2 separate regions of the Homo sapiens genome follow, and region 1 is linked to region 2. Evidence: fine-mapped expression QTL. A gene starts in region 2. The other region holds a variant in brackets. All regions are shown on one strand. Distances are from middle to middle.

Region 1 (5,368 bases), 24 kb after region 2:
TTCGATTGTGCGGTGGGTGTGTTGGATTTGGGGGGAGGGGCAGAGGCAGGGAGTGCTGGGGTGAGGCGTGAGGCTGAGTGTTGTGGAGACAGGTTAGCAGGGGCCCGGCGGTGTGGCAGGAACAAAGGCAGCTTCCAACGCTGGTGCAGGATTCCGAGCCTTAACCCAGATGCTCATGGTGCCCTAGTCTTGAGTTCTTCATTTAGGTGGGCTTATTTCCCACTGGGTCTGGGGGATTTCATTTGTCCTTTGAGGGGCAGGGTGGACACTGACAGAACAGCTGCGGCCGGCAGAGAGGGTGGTTAGGAAGAGGGAAGCAGCCTGTGGGTAACTTCCCGACCACATGGAAAGGCTGAATAAGACGTTATGGACCCTGCCTTGGGTACTGGGGTCAGCGTCTCCTGGTGGTGTCTGCACAGGGCCCCCCAATGCCAGGGCACTGCCAAAACACGCTCTTGAGTTTAATGGTAGTGGTTGGTCTGAGTCCTGCCAAAGTGTATGGAGCAAGTTTCATTGGCTGGACTTTCCCCTTGCATGAAATAATAAAAGCCCTGGCCAAGGCTTATGAATCTATTTTTGTTTCATTAATATTATTTATTATGTATTTTATTAATATTTTTTGGAGGGACCTTGCTCTCATTTGACCATTTGTAGTTATAATTAATGCATTCCGTACTGGTTGTAAAAAGTGTGCTTGCATTTAATTGCAAGTCAGGGTAAATTAATGGATATGATTTAAAACAAAACTCACTTAAAATATTCTTGCAGAACGCAAAGGAGGGGGCAGTCCCAGTATTTAATTTATTTTCTGGTTTAGTGTTAGTGTGAGAGGGTCGAAAAGATTCTGTGGGTCCAACGGGATTTGTGTCTGTGTGTGCAGGACCGTCGGGCAACACAGAGGGAGGAGAAAAACCTGGACCGGAGTAGGGTAGCCAGGAGCTCTTTTTTTTTTTTTCTCTAATTTCTGAGGTTGCCAGGAGGGGCTTAAGCAAAGTGGTCAAGTCCATCTGCTCCGGAGAAGGTGGTAAAGAAAAGAGGTTAGTGGCAAGAGGGAAGGAGCACAAAGGGAAAATTGTACATTGGGAGCGTTACTCTCCCTGGCCATGGTGTAGCCAGACTGGTTTAGCAGACAGAATGATAGATTGTTTTGTCAGGGGTCCCAGGGTGCGCCCTGAACTTGAAGCACTTTGTTTATCTTGAATAGAAAGGGAAAAGCGCAGACATAATCGATGTCTAGTTTTTAGGAGCTCGAAAGAGGTAGGAGAACAGAGAAGACTCAGGAGGGGTAGTGGGAGGTGGGGGAGGTGCAGGCCCTGGTTGTGGTTGTCCATTAACAGATGAACTTGGCCGAGGGCCAGGCTTTAGATGAGAGCGTGTCAGGGCCCCAGTGCAGCCAAGCCTTTTCAGTGTTTTTTTTTTCCTTTTTCTTTCTTTCTTTTTTAAATACCTGCTGACTGTACATCAAATGCTCCCTGGTCTTTTGGCTAAAGGCAAAAAAATAAAAAATAAAAAAAAAAAGAGACGCACAGCTCAATTTTTTCCCTCCTCTGAACCAGTTGAGGCCAGTCTTTTGGCTACATATGCGGGTTCTATCATCTTTCCTGGCTTGCCGTTGGGAAAAAAAGTTGTGATAACGCCAGTAACCCGAGGGCCAGATGGGAAGGGTTTGGTTGTGTTCAGGCGACCAGGTGTGAGAGCTCGTGGTGCAGTGGGGTGGGGCGTGGCCGGCGTGCCTGCGTGTGCAGGTAAGAAATCAGTGGAAACTCTTTTTTTTTTTTTTTTTTAAATGGCTGAAGTTTAACTTGTTGGAAGGGCCTGTGAATTAAGCTGTCGGTGGCTGAGAACGATAATATGCAAGGAAGGCTCAAGGAAGGCTCAAGAAAGGCCAGGGGTGGGGAAAAGGTGCTCTTGTTAGAGGCGCAGCCTTTCCTGGGCAGGACCCAGGACCGATGGCAAACCCATGTGTTTGGGCTTGTTTTGTTCTCGATTTTCTTATCTTCTTGGCCTCTTCCTGTGTTTTTTAGTTTATTGTGACATTATGCATTCATATATGAATGTTGGCAAGCAGGAGTCATCATCCCAATAACTTCCTGACATTTTTAGCTCTTTTAATGTGCAGTCTTTGCCCTCCTGCCACAAGTGGCGAAGTAATTGAATTTCCCTGTTACTAACTGGCAGGAGGCATGTTCTAGTTCCCACCAGAGGAGCTGCTGGGGCTAAAGCTGGGTTCATAGAATCCCACCTAGGGGACACCAGGGCTTTCAAGTGGTTTGGGGACCTGTCTGAAATGATATTCACACAATAAAAAATATTTTTCCCATCATAGACTTGAAAAGGCACCATTGTGCACATCTATATAAAATGTGATAAAATCACATTTACTTCCCCTGGCTAGGCCTCATAAGGGAGGCAGGATTTCCTTCTCCTTTTCTAGTAGCAAATAAAAACTGGGAAAATTTGGGGGCCTCTGGGTTTATCCCATGGATACCTGCCCCCGCTCCCGCCCGCCAACTCAGCCAAGCCCTTAGAGGCAGTCTTCTCTCCCACCTAGATGTCTTTGTAACCTGAGCTGGTAAGAAAGGGAGGAGGGACAGAAAGAGGGGAAATATGCCCTTGACATATGATGTATCTTCTTTCTTTTCTTCTTCTCTTTGATTACACGAAATAAAATGGTTTAGGCTGAGGGTAAAGAAGTAATACCATTTCTAGTTGTGCAACCTTGGGCAGATTTCATTCCCTAAGCCTCCGCTTCCTCAATCTGTAAAGTGGGG[A/G]GAATCACGGGGCTTGCCTCATAGGGCCTTTGAGCATCCTATGAGAGCATGTGGGGGCGCTGGGCTCAGTGCTGGGCACATGGTAAAACATGTCACAAAAGCTCATTACTATTACGGTTATGACTCATGGCTTGGAACTGTGTGCTCCTGGGGTCTCAAAGTAGTTCCCCCATTATGGGGTGAGCAGGTTGGGATGAGAGAAGAGCAGGGCAGGTGGGGGTCTAAAGAGCTCAGGGTCTCATTATGTTTCTGGTGGCAGCTCCCTCGTGGGTGGGAGTCCCCTCTCCCCATAGACGTGTGTTGCCTTACGAGAGGCTTGTGCCTGCCTGGGTGTGTGACACAGTTACTCTGGGTTCAGATTTCTATGTTACTGCTAGCTGGTTGGGAGAGTCTGAGGGAATCATTTCACCTCTCTGTGAAATGGAGATAACTCAAGGTCCCTTACCTCATAGAGTCCATGTGAGAAGTAAATGAGGGAAAGCACAGACATTACTCGCTCCGGGGGCTGCACCTCCAGAATTGCTGTTGTCATTATTACCATGTGTCTGACACATTGATATTCCATCCCACAACAACCTCGGAAAGGAAACACTCCCATTAGCCTCATTTGGTAGAGGAGGAAATTGGGGTTCATCAAGGGTTAAATGACTTCCCTGAGGGTCCACAGTTGTTCAATCCTTTGGCCTGCGGCCGCCACCCTCTGCTACCTCTTCAGTACGTTTGCAGCTTTCTTCAGCGGTGCCAGGCAACAACTGGGCAGGAAGCTCTGGTGCTGGACAGTTGTCCCTCCCATGGGTTCTGTGGTCAAGTTTTTCAATCTTCTGGGAAAGAGAAGAATGTTCCCCTCCAGTTCTGGGCATATTGAAGGAGCACGGAGCTGTTGGGAAAAGTTGCAATGTAAGGAATCCTGCTTTGCAAGTAGTCATTTCCCCATCTGTCCAGAATGAGCCTGAAATCAAGTGAGGGTCCTGAGAAACAGAGGGAGGAGGTTTTACTGTTTGTGTGTGGCTTGGTCAGGAGACTGCAGTGGGCTGAATGAGAAACTAAGCTCGGACTTTTAAGAAGTGGTGAGGCTTGGCCTGCAGCAGTTCTGTGTGTTGTCTCTGTGGCATTTACTTCTCGGATCGTACCTTCAAAGGCTGGGGAGAATCAGAATTATACAGGGAGGGAGAGACTGAGTGTGAGTGAGTGTGCGTGGCAGTGGTGTTTCTTAGGACGATGGGTTCTGGGGGGTCATAATCTGCTTCGAGGAGGTTTTCATTTCTGGCTGAACAAGGCTGTGGTAAGGCAAGTCCGGAAGGCATGCTGGAAACTTGAGGGAAGTTTTGAATGGAAACTGCAGTCAACAGCTCCATATGATCCGCATGTGGCTTCCCCAGAGGCAAGTTTTCAGCTGCGTGGTGGCCTCTCCCAGTCACTCCACAGGCTGCCCTGACGCTATTAATATTTGCTGAAGCAAGACCTGAGGTTCGTTGCAGATGGATTACACAATGTATTCCAAAACCAAATGTTACTGTTTTCCTGTATTCTCCATCCTTTCAAATTGGCCAGGCTAACATAGACCTCCACTGAGAGAATTTCAGAATCATTTGGTAGTTGAGAAGCGCCTACTTCATGCGGAGGCCCCGTGGGAGGAGTGGAAGAGTTGGCCTCAGCACTGGCGAGTATCGGATGGGAGCTCTGCTCACTTGGTAAGTCCTTCTGCTAGAACCAAGGGAGGCTGTTCAGATCCATCACAAAGAAGTTGTCGGTCACATCCAGGTTGTCTTCTGAGTTTGAGGTGGGATGGAGGTGGCTGCTGAGAATCCATGTGGGTCAAGAGCTCCAAAGCTTCACTTTTACTTCGCACTCTGTCCCGGGGCATGGACGTCCTCAATGGAGGTCATGCAAGCCCTTCCCCCTCACCCCTTCTCTTGGCCCTCTTCATTGTCTCTACATACCCTTGGGTCAAGAGTGTAGTGGTTCTCCCTTGTCACCCTGGAAGAGAAGCTCTTAGTTTTATTTGCTGGGTCTCCTAGACTGAAATGATAAAGCTGAAATGATAAAAGGCGTATCATGGCTTTAGAACCCTTCTTATTTCCCTCGCTCGCACCCCCTAGTTTTCCTTCTCTTCCCTTGAAAATCAGTGAAAATCAGGCCACATCTCTGATGATGGCCTTTTGTTTCTTTTTCTTTTTCTGTTTCTGCCTTCGTTAGGTAAGCACAAATTTGATGTCCCAAGAGGCAGGCCGGTGACCCTTCAGGCCAAGTGCCTGGATGTGGCAAAGCTACAATAAATATCGAATGGTGAGAGCAATGGAAATTTAGCAAAGCCATAACCGGGGAGACCTCAGAGGGGCAGTGGACTGGTTAAGAGGCTGTTGGATGAGCCGGGTAGTATTTCTACTTCAACCTGATTGAAATGTCGACTAAAAATCAATGCTGTTGACTAGTGATAATTTACAACGTTCCTGGTGCTAAGTAGTTCCCCGCTTAAGAATGCGTTGGCTGGGCAGAGATTAGCGCAGGGAGTTGTGTGTGTCACAATGAATCAGACGCATTATAGGTCAGCCCTTTATTTGTTTCATCATGACTTTTACACAGTTGTCATGTAATTT
Region 2 (5,368 bases):
GTAATAAAGTCATTACTTTTTACACTACAGCCAACCCCGAAAAGCTTTATACACACCATTATATATAAATCATACATATATATATATTTCCACAACACTCACTCGCTCATTTATATATCTTCTCTATAGATGGACTTTTATGGACGGGTGGGAACAATATTCAAATCTGAAAAGCTTGGTTCTGAAAGAATCTGGCTCACTATTGTTACCTGAAGGGGCTTTTCTTTTATTTATTTATTTTTCAAAGGCCTCCCAGTTGCACTTTCTTCTTCCCTCTCTTCACCTTCCCTCCAACCGTCCCCCACGTCGTCCTCCCCCGCCACCCCCCAAGAAGACATTCTTTTGGTGACTCCAAGGCTGGTTTAACAAGACAAAAAGCAGACTGTGGTGGAATAGAGATGCTGACCTGCTCTGAAGAACTCAGTGAAAAGGGGAAATGGTGTCACACACAAGCTACAGAGCTTAACTTCTAGTGAATCCTCCCGCTTCTTAAACAGAATTTGAGGTCTCCCTCCCACAAACTGGAGGGAAACAACAACAAACAACAAACCACATTGACACAATCCCAGTACAGCCCACATCTCTCTCAATGTTGAGCATCAAAACCTCCTTTTCTTCCTTAGAGGGGTCCGAAGCTCCGCCGAGCTAGGCAAGCCAGTCATTTTCTAACACAGTAGACTTGAAACTTTACTAAGACGAAACAGGAATAAACAGCCGCTTGCCGGCAGGGCTGCGGGATGGGTGAGCGCGTGCAAGCCCGGGGCCCTCGCTTAAAACAATAAAGCCCCCCCACCGGGTGGGTGAGTTTACGGAAGCGACACCCTTTAGACTGAAGAGGGGGATGAGAAGACGGGGGTTGTGGAACCGCTCCGAGGAGAGGGAAGGAGGGCTCCTCGCTCTGCAGACACACTCACACATATCCACCTGCAGCTCAGGGTCTCGCGGGCCATGGCGACCCGTCTCCACCCTGCACCCTCCGCACCTCCCTTGGACCTGAGTCCATTCTCCTCTCCCCCCAACTCCTTCCAGATTTGGAATCGGACTGCGATCTCCCCGGCGGCGGCGGCGGCGGCTGCAGAGTGGTGCTGGCAGGCAGGGAGGCTGGGAGGCGGGAGGCGCCAGGGGACTTTACAGGCACGTTTCTGAATAAACTTTCCAATCGCAGGGGGTGCTGTTGCTGTACATTTTACGTAAAACTGAAAGTATCCCACGCCAGAGTGAAGCCCGCTTTTTGACAGCGGCAGCACGCGCGTGTGTGTGCGTGTGTGCATTAAAGAGACAGGGTTTTATTTCCAACAGGTCTTCCCTAATTTCCAGGGAACGTCTGCAGAAAGGCGAGAGGGGGCTGCTGGCTCCTGGGTGTGCGCCTTGGCCGGCGGCGCCTGGGGAGCGCGGCGGTGACCCGAGGCGGTCATCTCACCACCGTGGTCTCCCCGCTGCTCCTGCGAGCCTGTCGCTCTCTCTCCATTCCCATTTTCTCTTTCCCTGGGTAACAGCACAGGAACAGTTGTGCTCTGCCCGTAAGAAACATTTTCTTCCCATCCCTCTGTGCTTTTGCAGTTGCTCTGGAGTGGGAGGGGGTGTGTCCCTCCCAGGGACCCGGCTCGGGGACCTCCCGCGGCGCCGTGAGCACATTCCCAGGGACTGGGACTCCCGGGACTGCCCGCGCTTTGTCCTCGGCCTCTCAGAGAGGTGGACGCCTCGGTGCCTCTCTTGCCCAGGCCCCCGGCGCTCCCCTCCGGGGGCCAGACTCTGGCTCCTCGTTCTTTATTCCTCGGGCTCTCTTTCTGCGACCCTTAGGAGCCGGGGACTCGGCGCTTTCAGTTGCATTCAGACCCAGTCGCTTGGCGGGGCGCTCAGATTCCCGGTCCCTGGCTCGGCCTTGGGGGCGCCCTCGGGCCCCGGCCTGCGCCGCCTGCCTCTCCCCGGTCCCCTCTTTCCAGGCCGCGCGGGCTCCTGGAGACTTGGGCGCTGCCCTTCCGGACCCGCAGCCCTCCAAACTTAGGCTGGATTCCGCGTTGCCGTGCGCTCCCTCCCACCTCCCCTCGCCCGCTGCGGAGCTGTAACTTGGAGGCTCAGCTCTCAACTTCGGGTGATTTTTCTTTGCTGTCCTCTCCTCGGGCAAAGTTTCCCGAGCGCAGCCGCGGGCTCGGGGCTTTTACTTCGGCCCCTGGCGTCCACACGCGGGGAGCGAGCGCGGCGGCGGCGGGGAGGGGAAGTGGGTGTGCGTACGGAGGAGGGTGTCCGGGAGCAACTCTACCTGGCTTCCCTCCGCCCGCGCTTCCCCAGCCCGGGGCTGCAGCCTCCCGGTGCACTCTCGCTCTATTTTTTTCTTTTTTGAATAATCTTTCATTTTAGAGTCCGCGTGTGTGGGGGGGAGCAGGGCGCACGTCTTGCTCCCCCCCACCCTTTCCTCCCACCCCTGCCACCCCTTTCTTCTCTCCCGGCCACGCCACCGCCGCGGCGCTCGCTGCGGCCACTGGTGAGCCCGCGGCCCCAGCGCCCCCTCCCCTCGGCCCGCCCCTCCCCCGGGGGCCGCGTCTGGCGTCCGCGGAGCCCCCCGCCCCGCACCTCCCCCTCCCCGCACTGGCCATTGGCTTGTCCTGGTCTCTTTTTCATGTCCAGCCCCTGATGTGTGTCCATTGGTGTGAGCTTCCCCTTCCCTCCTCCCCTTCTCTCCTGCTCGCCCTGCCCATGTTTTGTGTGTCTCTGTCCATCCAGACTCCTGACGTTCAAGTTCGCAGGGACGTCACGTCCGCACTTGAACTTGCAGCTCAGGGGGGCTTTTGCCATTTTTTTCATCTCTCTCTCTCTCTCTCCCTCTATCTCTCTTCTCTCTCTCTCCCTCTTTTTTTTTTTTTTTTTTTTTTTTTTTTTGCTTAAAAAAAAGCCATGACGGCTCTCCCACAATTCATCTTCCCTGCGCCATCTTTGTATTATTTCTAATTTATTTTGGATGTCAAAAGGCACTGATGAAGATATTTTCTCTGGAGTCTCCTTCTTTCTAACCCGGCTCTCCCGATGTGAACCGAGCCGTCGTCCGCCCGCCGCCGCCGCCGCCGCCGCCGCCGCCCGCCCCGCAGCCCACCATGTCTCGCCGCAAGCAAGGCAAACCCCAGCACTTAAGCAAACGGGAATTCTCGCGTAAGTAACCCAATAATAGTAATAATAATTATTAATAATCACGAGAGCGCGCAGGACTAGAAGCAAAAGCGAGGGGGAGAGAGGGGTGTGTGCATGCATTTTTAAATTTTTCACGAGAAAAACCTCCGAGAGTCGAGGTAAAAGAGATAAAGGGGGAAAAAACCCTCATCCCATCTGGAACCATTGCCGTGTATGCACTTTTGAGACAGCACGCACCTTTTAATTTTATTTAATTTTACAAAAATTTGACTCCTCCTCTTTCCTCCTTTCCGCCGCTTTATTTCTCTTTTCGAAAAGGAATGCAATGATTCCACTCCCCCCCCGCCCCGCCAGTTTTGCAAAATAATGAACAATGCTAAGGTTGCGAACAACTCACATGCAAACCTGGGGGTGGGAGCTGGTGGGGAAAGGGAGGTTGCTTCCCACTCACCGTAAGAAAATGGGGGGGTAGGGAGGGAGTGAGTACAAGTCTAAAAAACGATTCCCGGGGAGAAAAGAGGTGAGACTGGCTTTTGGACACCAGCGCGCTCACGGTCAAGTGTGCAGCGGGAGGAAAGTAGTCATCCCCACAATAGTGAGAAAGTGGCACTGTGGAAAGGGGCCCCCGGCGCTCCTGAGTCCGCGGAGTCGGGAGAGGGGCCGCGGCGACGGGGAGAGCCGTGGGACCGGGAAGGACGGGAGACGCGGCCGGCACTGCCGCCTTTTGTTCCGGCCAGAGGTGGGTGTTTGTCCCGCTGCCTTTTGTGCCGGCTCCTCGCGCTTGCCCTCCCGCGCCGCCGCCGCCGCCGCCGCCGAAGGGCAGGAGCTAGGGCCGGGGGAGGAGGCGGCCGGGGGCACGCGGGAGAGGGAGGGAGGGAGCCCGGACTGCTGCCTCCTGGGTTGCCGCTGCCCTCCCCTCCCGACCGAACCTCAGAGGCAGCAAGGAGAAGACTGGCACATAAATAAATAAATACATAAAAATAAAATAAATAAAACAAGGCAAGAGAATGTACAATTTCTTGCCCCCAAACCGAAGCCAAACGCTCTGCCAACCCTTTTCTGTGACGGCCTTCTCTTTGACTCCCCCACCAGCCCCCCTGCAAAAATCTCACAATCTCTCATCTAGAAAAAAATTTACAATCACCCTCTTCCCCCAAACCCCTTCAGTTGCAAACTTAGGGCGCCGACGGCACGGAGAGGGAGAGAGGAACTCCCTCCTCTTACTATTTTTTGGAAGATTTTCAAAAAAAGTGGAAGTGGATTTTGATTGGGAAAAATCTCGTGTCTGAATGTTTACAAGCACCGCGTGTGCGGGAGCCTCCTGCCAACAAACAGACAGAGGACCGAGCGCGGCGCGGCAGCCCCGGAGCAGGCGGCGGCGGCGGCCTGGCCTCGCCCGGGCCTTGCCCGACCTCGCCGCGCCCCAGCCCAGCCCCGGATCGCCCACCCGGCGCCCGGCGCCCACCCGCCAGGCACGGCGGCAGGCCACGCAGTGTCTCCGCGCCAGCCTGGCCCGTGGTCCTGGTCCGCCCCCAGCACAATGCCGAGACCTCTTCTCGACCTCCCAGACTGCGAAATCGGCTGGGTGAAACTCGGCTTTGCAAAGCATTTTTATTTTGCAGGGCAACTGTAAAAGCGCGTTCTGCGCCTCCCCTCCCCTCCGCCCTGGGTACTTTCTCAGACGTCTCTTGTCCACAGCTCGGGACCGCGAGGAGGTCACCACGTGCTTTCCCTGCCCACCCCCCACCCCGCCCGGTCTGGTCACCAGTCCCCCTGCGCCCCGAGCACGACTAGGCCAGGTGGCGGGGTTGCCGGGGAAGGGCAGGGGAGAAGTGTGTTTGAGTGTGCATTTTAAGGGCGCTGGATCCTGGGACCCCGAGCACTTCACCCTTTGGGTCTTGCCCTCTTCCCCAGGCCTGGCTTGGTCTGAGGTTCTTGTGAGTCTGTATAAGAGCTGGTGGTGGTGGCTGTCTCCCGCTGACTGCGCCTGGAAAGGCGGGCGGTGGGCACTTAGGAAAGTTTGGCAGCAAGGGAAAGAAAGGCGTGAGGGCCCACATTCCCCCCCTACTCAATTTATGATTCTTACTTTAAATTTTTGATGCAGTTTTAAAGGACCACCTATACTTGGTTCTGTGTTTTTTTAAAGGGGTGGTGGTGGGGGGTGCGCACAGGGAATTTAATTTTTCACTGGGCCCTGGAACTTGTCACACACTTCGGAAGCTCCCCCACCCCGGCACGTTGCGCG

Direction of the effects. Positions count from the first base shown, and alleles are read on the strand shown. Sizes are in standard deviations (SD) of each study's normalised expression.
With allele G in place of A in region 1, the expression in monocytes after LPS of the gene that starts at base 2,706 in region 2 is higher (large effect, 0.82 SD a copy in Quach 2016).

What was found. PIP is the estimated chance that this variant, and not a neighbour inherited with it, causes the effect.
Region 1: its variant is the best candidate, but not a certain one, in a credible set for the expression of BCL11A in monocytes after LPS (Quach 2016, PIP 0.81).

What each region holds. Positions count from the first base shown.
Region 1 is chr2:60,526,749-60,532,116 of GRCh38, reverse strand. All of the region lies in intron 2 of BCL11A (BCL11 transcription factor A), which reads left to right. Among named protein-coding and RNA genes, the nearest start is that of BCL11A, 24 kb to the left of the region's middle. RefSeq lists an enhancer at 1-286 and a silencer at 1,307-1,376. The variant A/G (reference allele first, on the strand shown) is at 2,772.
Region 2 is chr2:60,550,992-60,556,359 of GRCh38, reverse strand. BCL11A (BCL11 transcription factor A) reads left to right here and starts at 2,706. Exons shown (of 4, transcript NM_022893.4): 1 at 2,706-3,144. The coding sequence starts at 3,090. RefSeq lists enhancers at 214-822, 1,397-1,446, 5,273-5,368 and silencers at 1,067-1,196, 2,137-2,226, 3,636-3,995, 4,516-4,575, 4,636-4,945.